Linked DNA regions of Homo sapiens: regions 2 and 3 are each linked to region 1. Evidence: fine-mapped expression QTL. A gene starts in region 1. Each other region holds a variant in brackets. All regions are shown on one strand. Distances are from middle to middle.

Evidence for each region. PIP is the estimated chance that this variant, and not a neighbour inherited with it, causes the effect. A credible set is the group of variants that fine-mapping cannot tell apart.
Region 2: its variant is the best candidate, but not a certain one, in a credible set for the expression of ATP5MJ in whole blood (INTERVAL, PIP 0.69).
Region 3: its variant is the best candidate, but not a certain one, in a credible set for the expression of ATP5MJ in whole blood (INTERVAL, PIP 0.58).

Annotation. Positions count from the first base shown.
Region 1 is chr14:103,919,689-103,923,865 of GRCh38, reverse strand. ATP5MJ (ATP synthase membrane subunit j) reads left to right here and starts at 2,337. Exons shown (of 4, transcript NM_004894.3): 1 at 2,337-2,396. RefSeq lists silencers at 2,144-2,313, 2,200-2,372 and an enhancer at 2,007-2,682.
Region 2 is chr14:103,960,256-103,964,533 of GRCh38, reverse strand. It overlaps TDRD9 (tudor domain containing 9), which reads right to left. Exons shown (of 36, transcript NM_153046.3): 3 at 1,358-1,455. Among named protein-coding and RNA genes, the nearest start is that of RD3L, 20 kb to the right of the region's middle. The variant G/C (reference allele first, on the strand shown) is at 2,295.
Region 3 is chr14:103,941,442-103,945,719 of GRCh38, reverse strand. All of the region lies in intron 1 of TDRD9 (tudor domain containing 9), which reads right to left. RD3L (RD3 like) reads left to right here and starts at 3,191. Exons shown (of 3, transcript NM_001257268.2): 1 at 3,191-3,628; 2 at 4,018-4,278. The coding sequence starts at 4,025. The variant T/C (reference allele first, on the strand shown) is at 1,752.

The sequences.
Region 1 (4,177 bases):
TCCTCTTTTTTTTTTTCCTTTAAAGATGGGATCTTAATACATTGGCCAGGCTGGTCTCAAAATTCTGGGCTCAAGCAGTCCTCCCAAAGTGCTGGGATTACAAGCATGAGCCACCATGCCTAGCACGATTTCCTCTTAGTTTGTCCTTAACTGTCTTTATTTTACCTTCTTTTCTGAATGCCAATTTCCCTGTGTATAGAATTCCCTGTGTATAGAATTCTTGATTGGTGGTTACTTTCTTTGAGATTTTATCTTTATCTTTTCTATGGCTTTATTGTGAGATTTCAAGGTATTGATTTATTTTTATTTATCTGCCTGCTTGGTTTCTGTAAGGCTTTTTGTTTGTTTTTTGTTTTTTGTTTTTGTTTTTGAGACGGAGTCTTGCTCTGTTTCCCTGGCTGGAGTGCAGTGGCGCCATCTCTGCTCACTGCAAGCTCCGCCTCCCGGGCTCACGCCATTCTCTCACTCAGCCTCCGGAGTAGCTGGGACTACAGGCACCCACCACCACACCCAGCTAATTTTTTTGTATTTTTGGTAGAGACGGGGTTTCACCGTGTTAGCCAGGATGGTGTGGTGATCCGCCCGCCTTGGCCTCCTAAAGTGCTGGGATTACAGGCGTAAGCCACCGCGCCTGGCCTCTGTAAGGCTTTTTGAATCTTTGGCATGATTTTTTTCTCATCACTTTTGGAAAATTCTCAGCCATTAGCTCTTCAGATATTTCTGCCTCACCTCTTTAATTTCCTTCTAAGATACCAATTACCCATATGATTGGTATCTTTCCTGCTGTATCCCTCTTATTTTCTGAATGGCTTCTTCGATCTTGCAGTTTATTCTTTAACTGTCTAATCTGCCAAATCCATCCAATTTTTTGTTTTGTTTGTTTGAGACAGAGTCTCGCTCTGTCGCCCAAGCTGGAATACAGTGGCGCCATCTCAGCTCACTGCAGCCTCCACCTCCAGGGTTCAAGCGATTCTCCTGCCTCAGCCTCCCAAGTACCTGGAATTACAGGTGCGCACCACCACCACACCCAGCTAATTTTTGTATTTTTAGTAGAGAAGGGGTTTCACCATGTTAGCCAGGCTGGTCTCAAACTCCTGAACTCAAGCAGTTTGCCTGCTTTGGCCTCCCAAAGTGCTAAGATTACAGATTACAGGCCTCCCAAAGTGCTGAGCCACTGCGCCCAGCCTCCATCCAATTTTTATTTGGCTTTTTTTTTTTTTTTTTTTTTTTTGAGATGGCGTTTCACTCTTGTCGCCCAGGCTGGAGTGCAAAGATCTCGGCTCACTGCAACCCCTGCCCTCCGGGTTCAAGTGATTCTCCTGCCCCAGCTTCCTGAGCAGTTGGGATTACAGGCGCCCACCACCAAGCCCGGCTAATTTTTGTATTTTTAGTAGAGATGGGGTTTCGCCATGTCGGCCAGGCTGGTCTTGAACTCCTGACCTCAGGTGATCCGCTCGCTAAATTTTTTTCTTTTATGATTTCTAGTTCTCTACTGGAAAATATTTCTGAAAAAAAAAATATATATATATATATATATTTTTAAGACTATTAAGCCCAGTGTCTGGAGCCCCTGTGGAAGTTTTATATTATCTGCTGAGAAGAATATGCACAGAATACAGACATAAAAATATGCAGAGCAGGCCGGGCGCGGTGGCTCAAGCCTGTAATCCCAGCACTTTGGGAGGCTGAGGCAGGTGGATCACCTGAGGTCAGGAGTTCAAGACCAGCCTGGCCAACATGGTGAAACCCCGTCTTTGCTAAAAATACAAAAACTAGCTGGGCTTGGTGACCAGCGCCTGTAATCCCAGCTATTCAGGAAGCTGAGGCACGAGAACCGCTTGAACCCGGGAGGCGGAGGTTGCAGTGAGCCGAGATCGCGCCACTGCACTGCAGCGTGGGCGACAGAGTGAGACTCCGTCTCCAAATATATATATTTTATACATGCAGAGCTAAATAATTAACAATAGAAAGGGACAAGACACACCACTGAAATGGGAGACTTGACTTAGTCTTTAACGTCACAGTAAAGAGGGTCCCTTTTCTTAGGTTAACCAACCCTCCCGGTATGTCTAGAACTTTCCTAGTTTCAGCGTTGAAGGTCCCGCGTCCCAGGAAACCCATCAGTCGTGGGAAGATGTGGAGGATTAGCCAGCCCACAGTGACACACGCGGGCACACCCCTAACGCACCCTCTCCCCGCCCCTTCTTGCCTGCGACACCAGGCGGCCGCCGGGGGCGCTGTGGTGCGGAGGCGCCGCTGGGGAGGCACTCTGGCCTTGCGGCGTCTCTGCTGCTTCCGCCTTCCCGGCATCCCCTGCGCGCGCCTGCGCGCTCGGTGACCTTTCCGAGTTGGCTGCAGATTTGTGGTGCGTTCTGAGCCGTCTGTCCTGCGCCAAGGTGAGTACGGGGACCTGGACCTGGCTCCCGAGGTGCGAGACGGCGGGGGCGGGAGGGCGAGAAGCCGCCTTGGCCCCAGCTGATCTTGGGGTTCCACCCCTCCGCCGGCACGCGCCTGCTTTTCTGCCCGGCTTTCCCTTCTCTGAAGGGAGGTAGGCCAGGGTCGGTTGCCAGAGGGAAGCATCGCCTAGGCCTGCGCCGCGTTTCCCTCCTTGGCCTTAACGCGCTCAGTGCACCTGAATTCTCCCACGGTTTTGACAGGGAGCGTACCTTGGCCTTGAGAGGTTCAGCTGCCTAACCCAGAGGCTACGCAGAGTTAGAGAAGCCAGAGTCCAAGCCAAGAACTCTGACTCCACATCCAGTCCCTTCTCTCCTTTATAACTCAAGTTTCCTTGCGCCACACTGCCCTCCACGTTATGCTGTACATGACAACTTGGGTGAGGCAACAGGGAAGCTGAAAAGAGATCATACGGTGCTGAATGAAATTGTATGGAACTCGCGGGTCAGACATTTCCCATTTCCAGTGTCAGGTAATAGTTCGCCCTTAATGTAATGTGCCAAAACTTTGCAGACTTAAGTGGATACAGTAGACACACGTTTGGCCTATGAATAAGATGGATTTTTAAAAGGTCTGGTGCTGTAAAACTGACACACACAGCTAGGAAATGTGCCTGGGCAGAATGGACTCAAGAAAGGGGCCGGCCGGGCGCGGTGGTTCACGCCTGTAATCCCAGCCCTTTGGGAGGCTGAGGCGGGCGGATCACGAGGTCAAGAGATCGAGACCATCCTTACCAACATGGTGAAACGCCGTCTCTACTAAAAATACAAAAATTAGCTGGGTGTGGTGGCAGGCACCTGTAGTCCCAGCTACTCGGGAGGCTGAGGCAGGAGAATCGCTTGCACTCGGTAGGCGGAGGTTGCAGTGAGCCGAGATCGCGCCATTGCATTCCAGCCTGATGACCGAGTGAAACTCCGTCTTAAAAAAAAAAAAAAAAAAAAAAGTAGGGGCTGTCGTTTTATTATGTGTTGGGAATATGTAGCTGGGCGCGGTGGCTCACGCCTGTAATCCCAGCACTTTGGGAGGCCGAGGCGGGCGGATCACGAGGTCAAGAGATCGAGACCATCCTGACTAACACGGTGAAACCCCGTCTTTACCAAAAATACAAAAAATTAGCCCAGTGTGGTGGCACGCGCCTGTAGTCCCAGCTTCCCAGCTACTCAGGAGGCTGAGGCAGGACAATCGCTTGAACCCTGGAGGCGGAGGTTGCAGTGAGCCGAGATCGCGTCACTGCATTCCAGCCTGGGTGACAAAGCGAGACTGTCTCAAAAAAAAAAAAAAAGTAGGGGCCGGACGCGGTGGTTCACGCCTGTAATCCCAGCCCTTTGGGAGGCTGAGGCGGGCGGATCACGAGGTTAAGAGACCGAGACCATCCTGGCCAACATGGTGAAACCCCGTTTCTACTAAAAATACAAAAATTAGCTGGGTGTGGTGGCGGCCTCTTGTAGTCCCAGCTACTCGGGAGGCTGAGGCAGGAGAATCGCTTGCACCCGGGAGGCGGAGGTTGCAGTGAGCCGCGATCGCACCATTGCACTCCAGCCTGATGACCAACTGAAACTCTGTCTAAAAAAAAAAAGGGGGGGCCCTCGTTTTATTATGTATTGGGAACATGTCACTTGTCCAGGCAAATATGGCAACTGAAGTCAAGGGGAAAGGAAGGGAAAGGTATTTGCAAGCTACTGAATAGCAGGCCCCTGTTGCACTGGGGACTAAGGGTAATTTT
Region 2 (4,278 bases), 41 kb before region 1:
CAAAAAAACAAAAACAACAACAAAAAAAATAGTAACTAGTGATAGCTGTGGAAAAACCAGGCCAGGTTAACTCCAGCTTCCTGGGTCTCAACTGCTTCTGTAAAAATGAAAATGTAAAATTAGATTTCTATGACTCTTCCCAAGTTTCTATTAACATTTTGTAATGAATCTGCAAATAATTCTACTGAACATGAGAAAAAGAGCTGTTACTACATTCAAGTGGTTTTAAAATGTCATCTTAAATTCTTCAGACATATTTTTATCTATTAAATATCTGTTTATTTATTTTTAGACACAGGCTCTAGCTCTGTCACCCAGGCTGGAGTGCAGTGGCACAATCATGGCTCACTGCAGCTTTGACCTCCTAAGCTCAAGCCATCCTGCCACCTCAGCATCCCAAGCCAGGACCACAGGCACGTGCCACCATATTCCACTAATTTTGGGGGGTGTGTTTTGTAGAGATGAGGTCTTGCTATGTTGCCCAGGCTGGTCTGGAACTCCTGGCCTCAAGTGATCCTCCCACCTCCAGACATATTTGGAAACAAGTAACTTCCACTTTTCCACTTACAGATTATATGCAGCATTTTTAAAACTCCACTCAAATTCCTCCTCCAGAACTCCCCGACCTCCACTCTAAACTTATTTAAGCTCTTATCCTTCTAACAATTGATATGGTCAGGAAATACAAATTAATTTGAATACTGGCCTCTAATTTTTAGTTGCATGATTTACTCTAAAGCAAAGTAAAAATTAAATTTGAAACATTTCTAGTTTTATCTGTAACTCCTTCTTCCAGTTAATAAAGGTTCCGATACGCTTACTCTTAACGATGCTTAATAACACGCAAGTAATTAGGAACTTAATCGTCCTACTGTTACATCTGCCTGGCATTGTTAATACAATGGTATGTCAATGATTGATTACATTAATCAACAGGCAGAGAAAGGGCCAACGCTGTAAAGAAAACCCAGTGGAAATGCTAGGGTATGTCATTTGCTTCATAAAAACATTTAGCAGTGAGTTTATTTAAACAAGAAGCTCTCCTGGGGAAGACTAAGTGTTTACTTGCAGATATTTTGAGGAAGGAAAGACTAGATAAACTAAATGTTAGAAGATGTACTCAGGCGAAGACTAAAGAAATTAAAGCACAGATCAAAAGAAAAGCCATCGATATGGTTACTACACAAAATCATCTGCAGGTTGGCCTGAGCACACCCTCCTCTTATCCACCACAGAACCTTGTACACCACAGAAGTGTTCACCTGGCAACTGGTAACTTTCAAATTAGAAACCAAAAGTATTGGGCCTCAGACATGTATTCAAACAGCAAAATTACAGTATAACAAAACAATTTTACCTCTTCCTTGTATCGACTTATAGGCAAATCAGGATATTTATAAGTTGTCCCTGGGATGCATGTCACACTGCTTAATTTAGCCAAAGATGGCCTTGGACCTGGATTAAGGCAAAACAAACAAATACAATGCCATTTCTTATCTGGAAAAAGATAACTCAATGTTCTAATCTATAGATACAGCATACACACACACACACACACACACACACACTCAAATACAAAAATACATTTTCTACAGGCTAAAACTGCCATCAGGGCAATACCAAAGACATGGAACGAACATAGGTATCCATCAATGGTGGATTGGATAAAGAAAACATGGTACATATACACCATGGAATAATATGCAGCCATAAAAAAGAATGAAATCATGTCCTTTGCAGCAAGCAACATGGATGTAGCTGGAGGCCATCTAAGCAAATTAACACAGAAACAGAAAACCAAATATTAAATGTTCTCACAACTGGGAGCTAAACCTTGGGTACACACGAACATAAAGATGGGAATAACAGACACTAGGGACTCCAAGAAGAAGAGGGAGGGAGGGGCAAGGGCTGAAAAACTTCCTACTGGGTACTGTGTTCACTATACAGGTGATGGGATCAGTGGAAGCCCAAACCTCAGCATCACCCAATATACTCTTGTAACAAACCTGAACATGCACCCCCGAATCTAAAATAAAAAGTTTAATTTCTTAAGAAACTTCCCTTAGCAGCCCACTATTAATCTTGTATAAAAGCAAACTGAGAACATTCTATCCCTCCATCACAGCCACCAATATTGCAAGCTCAGCACTGCCTTCTAAAACAGGCCTGTAAAACACGCACTCATTGCTGATTCAGTGGTACCAAAACAGTTAAAGAGAAAACTTTTCCTTGAAATTTCAACAGAATGCATCAATTTAAGTGTGCATTCCCTGCTACTAAAATACATCAGT[G/C]ATAGCAATAAATAAATCAAACAATTTATGAAATACAGGTATCAGGAAAGCAGGCAGCTTGCCTCTGCTCAGGATACATGACACAGAGCTCTGACCAGGCACACTTCTCTGCCCTCTTGTAAAAACATGCCCTGCTCTCTGGCTGCACTACAAATTCTAAACCTCTGGTCATCACTTGACAAACTGGCAAATCATCAAAACTCACGGAAGACAAACTTTTGCTGGGAAATAAGTTTTACTTCCAAAATAAACTCTTAGCCAAATTTAGCACCGCACTCATTCCCTTACCCCACGACTCACCTTCCCTTCCTATCAGCCCCTTGTTTCTGACCAGCATCTCCTGCTGTGTCACCCTCGGCCTTTCCTAATAAAACACACAACCAGGCTTCTCTCTTGTTTTCCTACATCTTTTCCCTACATATATTCCCATTTTCCTAACTGGTCTAATAACATGTAATTAAAATGTGGCTATTTTCCCACATTTGAATCAAAGTTACGTGGTCCCTGTTCTCAATTATATAAACAGAGGAACCAGATCTGTCATACTTTCTCAAAGCAAAAATAGCTTCTTTGTGAGTATGTTCTTCCTAAAATATTAGTGACCCCTAACTCAGGAAAGCTGTCCTGCCGATATGGCTTTTTTTTTTTTCCTTTTTTCTTTTTCTTTTTTCTTTTTCTGGACAGAGTCTTGCTCTGTCCCCCAGGCTGGAGTGCAGTGGCGCGATCTCGGCTCACTGCAACCTCTGCCTCCTGGGTTCAAGCGATTCTCCTCCCTCAGCCTCCTGAGTAGCTGGGATTACAGGTGCCCACCACCACACCCGGCTAATTTTTGTATTTTTAGTAGAGATGGGGTTTCACCATGTTGGTCAGGCTGGTCTTGAACTCCTGATCTCGGCCTCTCAAATTGCTGAGATTACAGGCATGAGCCACCACGCCTGACCTATGGCTTTTTAATCTTCTAATCAGCCTAACTAGTGATTGCCAAGTTTACTAAAACAGGGATTTTCTTTCCATTATCACGTCTCACTTTCCTTCCATTCCTCTTCTCAGTGCTATGGTAATTACTGATGCCTTCTTGTTTTCCCAGTTAATATACCTAGGCCTTCTTGAACATAATGAAAGAAGGGGAAGAGAATCCCCATGGCCCTTGTGAACTGGACTGAGAGAAAGAAGGCCCTGAGCCCAGACACAGCATGCAGACAAAGGGAGAGGCAAGTATTCTAGTGAGGAACAGGGTGGGAGTAAGAAGCTGAGGAAGAGCTACTCAAAGGGGAAAGAAGGTGACAAAGATTCTTTTAGAAAGACGAAAAAGGCTGCAGCCACGTTCGTTTTGCTAAAAGACTTCAAGCCCTGGCTCACATGCCGCTAAACAAGCCCTGTTACTTAGACAATATTGGCTTACATTACTTGATTACATGCATTTTGAAGACTGCTACTTAAAGACAGAAATTTTACAAGAAAAAATGCCAGAAGTCCTAACGGTACTGTCTATACCATAGCCCCTTCTCCATGTAACGCAAAACACAAGCTGACATTTTTAGGTCACTGGCTGAAGCAGACCCAGCACAAATCAAGTCCTGCCTCCGCGTACACTGCCAAAGGGCAGACAGGAAACCAAACAGCAGAAATGTTCCCAGCTGTGTGGCTCTCGCACCTTTGCATCAGCAACAGAATAAGAAGGAAATCCATCACGGATAATTTAAGGCAAATCAACAAACTACATACAACAAAGCAAAAATCCAAAAACGGCATGAGGACCAGCTCAACCTTAAAATTGACTATTCTTATTTTCTTGCTGTCTCTTTATCCTACATGATTAACAACACAATGTTTTACATGAACTGGGGAAAACTGGAAGCCATAAAAATTGCTAGTTCTCTTCACTAAGACATATCACTATATCACCATCAACCAAATATGAAATCTAACCAAAAAGTTCAGCACCTAGAGGTTCTAAACAGCATGTAAGGAATTTTAACTGGTA
Region 3 (4,278 bases), 22 kb before region 1:
TATAAAATTTAATACTTAGCTAACAAGGTGTAAACTAGAAAACTATGACAATGACCAAAAAGCAAAGGACCTAACAGCTTAAGCTTTATGTCGTCCACACAAAATATCCTAGGAAGTTTGCAATTCATCAGAAACAATTCATTTTTTCAACTCATTATAATGTAAGATAAATACAATCCAAGATACTTCCTTACCTTTGCTTACAAATATTTATGTTCTCTATCTACACAGCAGTAGAAGAAATACTGTAATCAGAGAATTATTTGGGTCTCTACTTCAATCTGATAATCTCAGGAGACAGGACAAAATAAAATCTGTAAGGCAAGTAGCACACACTAAGTACTAGAAAAATTGGTTTACACAATTAACTTCAAAGGAAGGTATACTCAATGTGAGTTAAGGTGGTAAGAAAAGTTCTGAAAAGGTCTTTGGTAATGGTTTCAATGGCAAGAAAGGTGTCAAACAAGTAAGTGGAGAAGGAAGATTGCCTTCAAGAAGCTCTTCCAGTGGCTAGCTCATTGATCTCTAAATCTCTGTTAAAAGGATACCTCCTACCCAAAAAGGTCTTCTCTGACCTCCAGTTCTAAGTGGGAGAAGTGTTCCAAGTATATTAATAGATTATGACCATCTATAATTACCTTACTGATTTGTGTACTTATATTTGTCTTCACATTTGGAGGCTGGCTCCTTGGGAGTAGGAACTAGGTCTTTCTTGTTCACTGCTACACCCCAGCCCCTAACTATTCAGGCCCTGGCAGACAGTCAATAGATATCTGTTAAGTGACTGAAAGCCAGCAATTACAGTAGAGGACACAGCAGGATCTAATTGGAAAGCATTAGGAAAAAGGGAAAAGAAGCCGGGCACGGTGGCTCACGCCTGTAATCCCAGCACTTTGGGAGGCCAAGACGAACAGATCACTTGAAGTCAGGAGTTCAAGACCAGCTGGCCAACATGGCAAAACCCCATCTCTACTAAAAATACAAAAATTAGCTGAGTGTGGTGGTGCACGCCTGTAATCCCAGCTACGAGGGAGGCTGAGGCACAAGAATCACTTGAACTCAGGAGGCAGAGGTTGCAGTGAGCCAAGATCACGCCACTGCACTCCAGCCTGGGCGACAGAGCAAGACTCCATCTCAAAAAAAAAAGGGTGGGGGGCGGGGTGGAGAGAGAACAGAAACACAGACCAAACCAGTCTTTCTATAAGTTTAACAGTGAAGATAAATAAAATCAGAGTTCAAAGGAAAAGAAGGGCCAAGGAAGATGTTCACATTGACCCTCAGGTTGAAGGAAAAAATCAGTTGGTATTTGAGCTGGTCCATGAAAAAGAGAATTACTATGTGGATACATGAAAAACACAAAGAAGCAGCTTTTCAGAAGAGAAAAAACAGTTGAACCAAAGCTGAAGGATCAGAAGTAAGCATGGCAAGCGTCAGGGGGCAACGTGGCCTGGCTGAAACAAAAGGTGTGCTCTAGGGTCGAGCAAGAAAGCAAGCCAGGTAAGGAGGGATAACGTAAGACTGTAGAGGGCCTTGAAGGAGGGATAATGTGAGACTGCAGAGGGCCTTGAACAGAAATTTGGCTTAAGTTCCATATCCAATATGTTCTGATATTTTTGTTACCATTTCAGAGGAAAAAAATTTATGCAGTAACAAGGAGGTTATTCAAAGGAGTATGCGGCAAGATTCGCTGTAATTTTAGTATAAAATTTGGTAGGACACTTCTGTCATCATAAACTTTACTCCTTTCCTTC[T/C]CCTAACAGTATATGCAATGTCATGTGAAAACCTTCCAGTTGACAATAATCAGTCCTGACATCTGGCTTTTTCTAACATCTAAGCAACAGGAGCTGTAGGGTGGCCACACACGTCACTCTGGGTCATGCATGACATGCAAGTCTGATGTAAACAACGTCTACTCTTCATGGCTCACTTGAAAGGAAAAGCAACAGAAGAAACAAATACTATAAAAGGGAAAACCACTATGCAGTCGTTTCACAGAGAACTGGGGAGTAAAAGACCTTTTATACTATCTACTCTTTAGCAAAAGACAAACACTTGCATAGGAAATTAGCACAGGCCAGCGCAGTGGCTCATGCCTGTAATCCCAGCACTTTGGGAGGCTGAGGCAGGTGGATTACTTGAGCCCAGTTTACGGACCAGCCTGGGCAACACAGGGAGACCTTATTTCTACAAAAAAAAAAAAAAAAGAAATGTATGTGTGTGTGTATATATGTGTGTATTATATATGTGTGTATATTTATATATACATATATAATACATATACATATGCGTATATATACTTATGTGTATATATACATATATGTACATATATAAAATACATACACATATGTACATATATAAAACATATATGTATGTACATATGTGCGTGTGTATATATTTTTTTAAACTAGCCAGGCATGCCGTAGCATGCACCTGTGGTGGCATGCACCTATGGTCCTGGCTATTCAGGGGGCTGAGGTGGGAGGATCACTTGAGCCCAGGAGGTCGAGGCTACAGTGAGCCGTGATCATGCCACTGCACTACAGCCTGGGTGACACAACGTGACTCTGTCTCAAAAAAAAGAAAGAAAGAAAAAAGAAATAGCACAATAATGACCATTACAAACCAATATGCACCTAAATAGTAAATATAAGTTTTTCATCCTCAGCTCCAAAAAAAAAACACGAAAATGATTTTTCTACGATGAATTATAAGATTTTGTTTAGAATTTTGTATGTTCTTATGCCTCTATTTTTCCCTGACAACCAATTACTGCCTTATTACCATATTTTCAGAGATTATAAAGTATATTTTAAAGTTATCTAGCTGTTTATTATGTCCCCTAGCATTTCAACTTGCTTAAATATACAAATTTAACTATTTTGAAAAAACCAAAATGAATACAAAATGTAACATTTGCTAAATATTTCACAATTATAATTCACATCAGCATTCTTTACCTATTTCACTCAATTACAATGAGTTTTCTCAGAATGTATGTTTTGCAAATAGTCAAGTCTAATCTATTTTTCCTGTTTTCACTAGAGGGGACAGTGACCCGGCTTCCAAATGGCCTGAAAGTTAAGCTGAAGAATAAAAGCAACGTGGCTATTTTTAGAGCTCTACAGGCATAAAAATACAGCACTAAACTGTGACCTACAGCTATGCACAGCAAAGCATCACATCACGCGACAGTCTTCACTCTAGCTCGGAGCGCATCTATGGTGCTTTAGACGACCATTCTTCGTTTCACTACCAAAGACATGTCGGAATGCATTTAGGACCAGCATCTATAGCTGCTGGCATTTTTTTCAAATAGACTGAGCTACATTGAAAAGGCAGACCATTATATAACTTGTGAAGATTAAATAGTCAGTTATTTTTGTCATTTCTTCTAGCTTACTTACAAGGTGAATTAATGAGCATTCTCTCCAAATGAAGACATCACAGCCTCATTCCTAACACAGAAAGTTATTTATTTCAAATACAGTTTCGGTGGGTAAATAAGGTGGCGCATTCCTTCTACAGAGGACACACCTAGGAGAGCAAGATACGTCCCAGTGAAACACAGCTTCGTCACCAACTTCAGTCAACTCTTTGGCAACATCACATCAGCCCATCAACTTAACAGGTAAGCTTTAAACCTTTTCTGTCCAAAACATAAATCAAAAGTATCTGTAGGCAGCACTTGCCCCGACATTAATATTTTAAGTCTCTTAAGAACTTTTCACAGCAAGTGTTAGTGTTATTTTCGGATATCATTCAGTCTATATGTTATCTCTGACTTTGTATATCTAATTTCTGCTAAGCTACATAAAAGCATTTTCAAAGCTTGGTTTCTGCCACTGACCTAGTTAAAAATTAAGACGTTAATCCATGTTCTAATCTTATTTTGACCTGCATAGCTAAATGTGAAAAAAAATCGTGCACTTTTCGGGCAAATTTATTGTAAAGAAACAAATATTTGCTCAGAAGAACATAACATTTTGAGCAAATAAACAAGTGAAAATATTTCCATAGGCTAAAAATGCCACTTTTTGGCTGGATGAAATGGCCCAAAAACGATTCCTACAAACCCACACACTATCCTGGCTCAGACATAGTGACAAAGACTCTGCTTCGGGAATTAAAATGGCACCTAAAGGAGCGAGAGAGATTAATACAAGAAATCGAAAATGAACAAAAAGTGAAAAAAACAGGTGTGGATTACAACTGGCTCAGAAACTACCAGAATCCCCACACAACTATCCCAGTGACTGAACAAAGACAACTTGAAGTTCT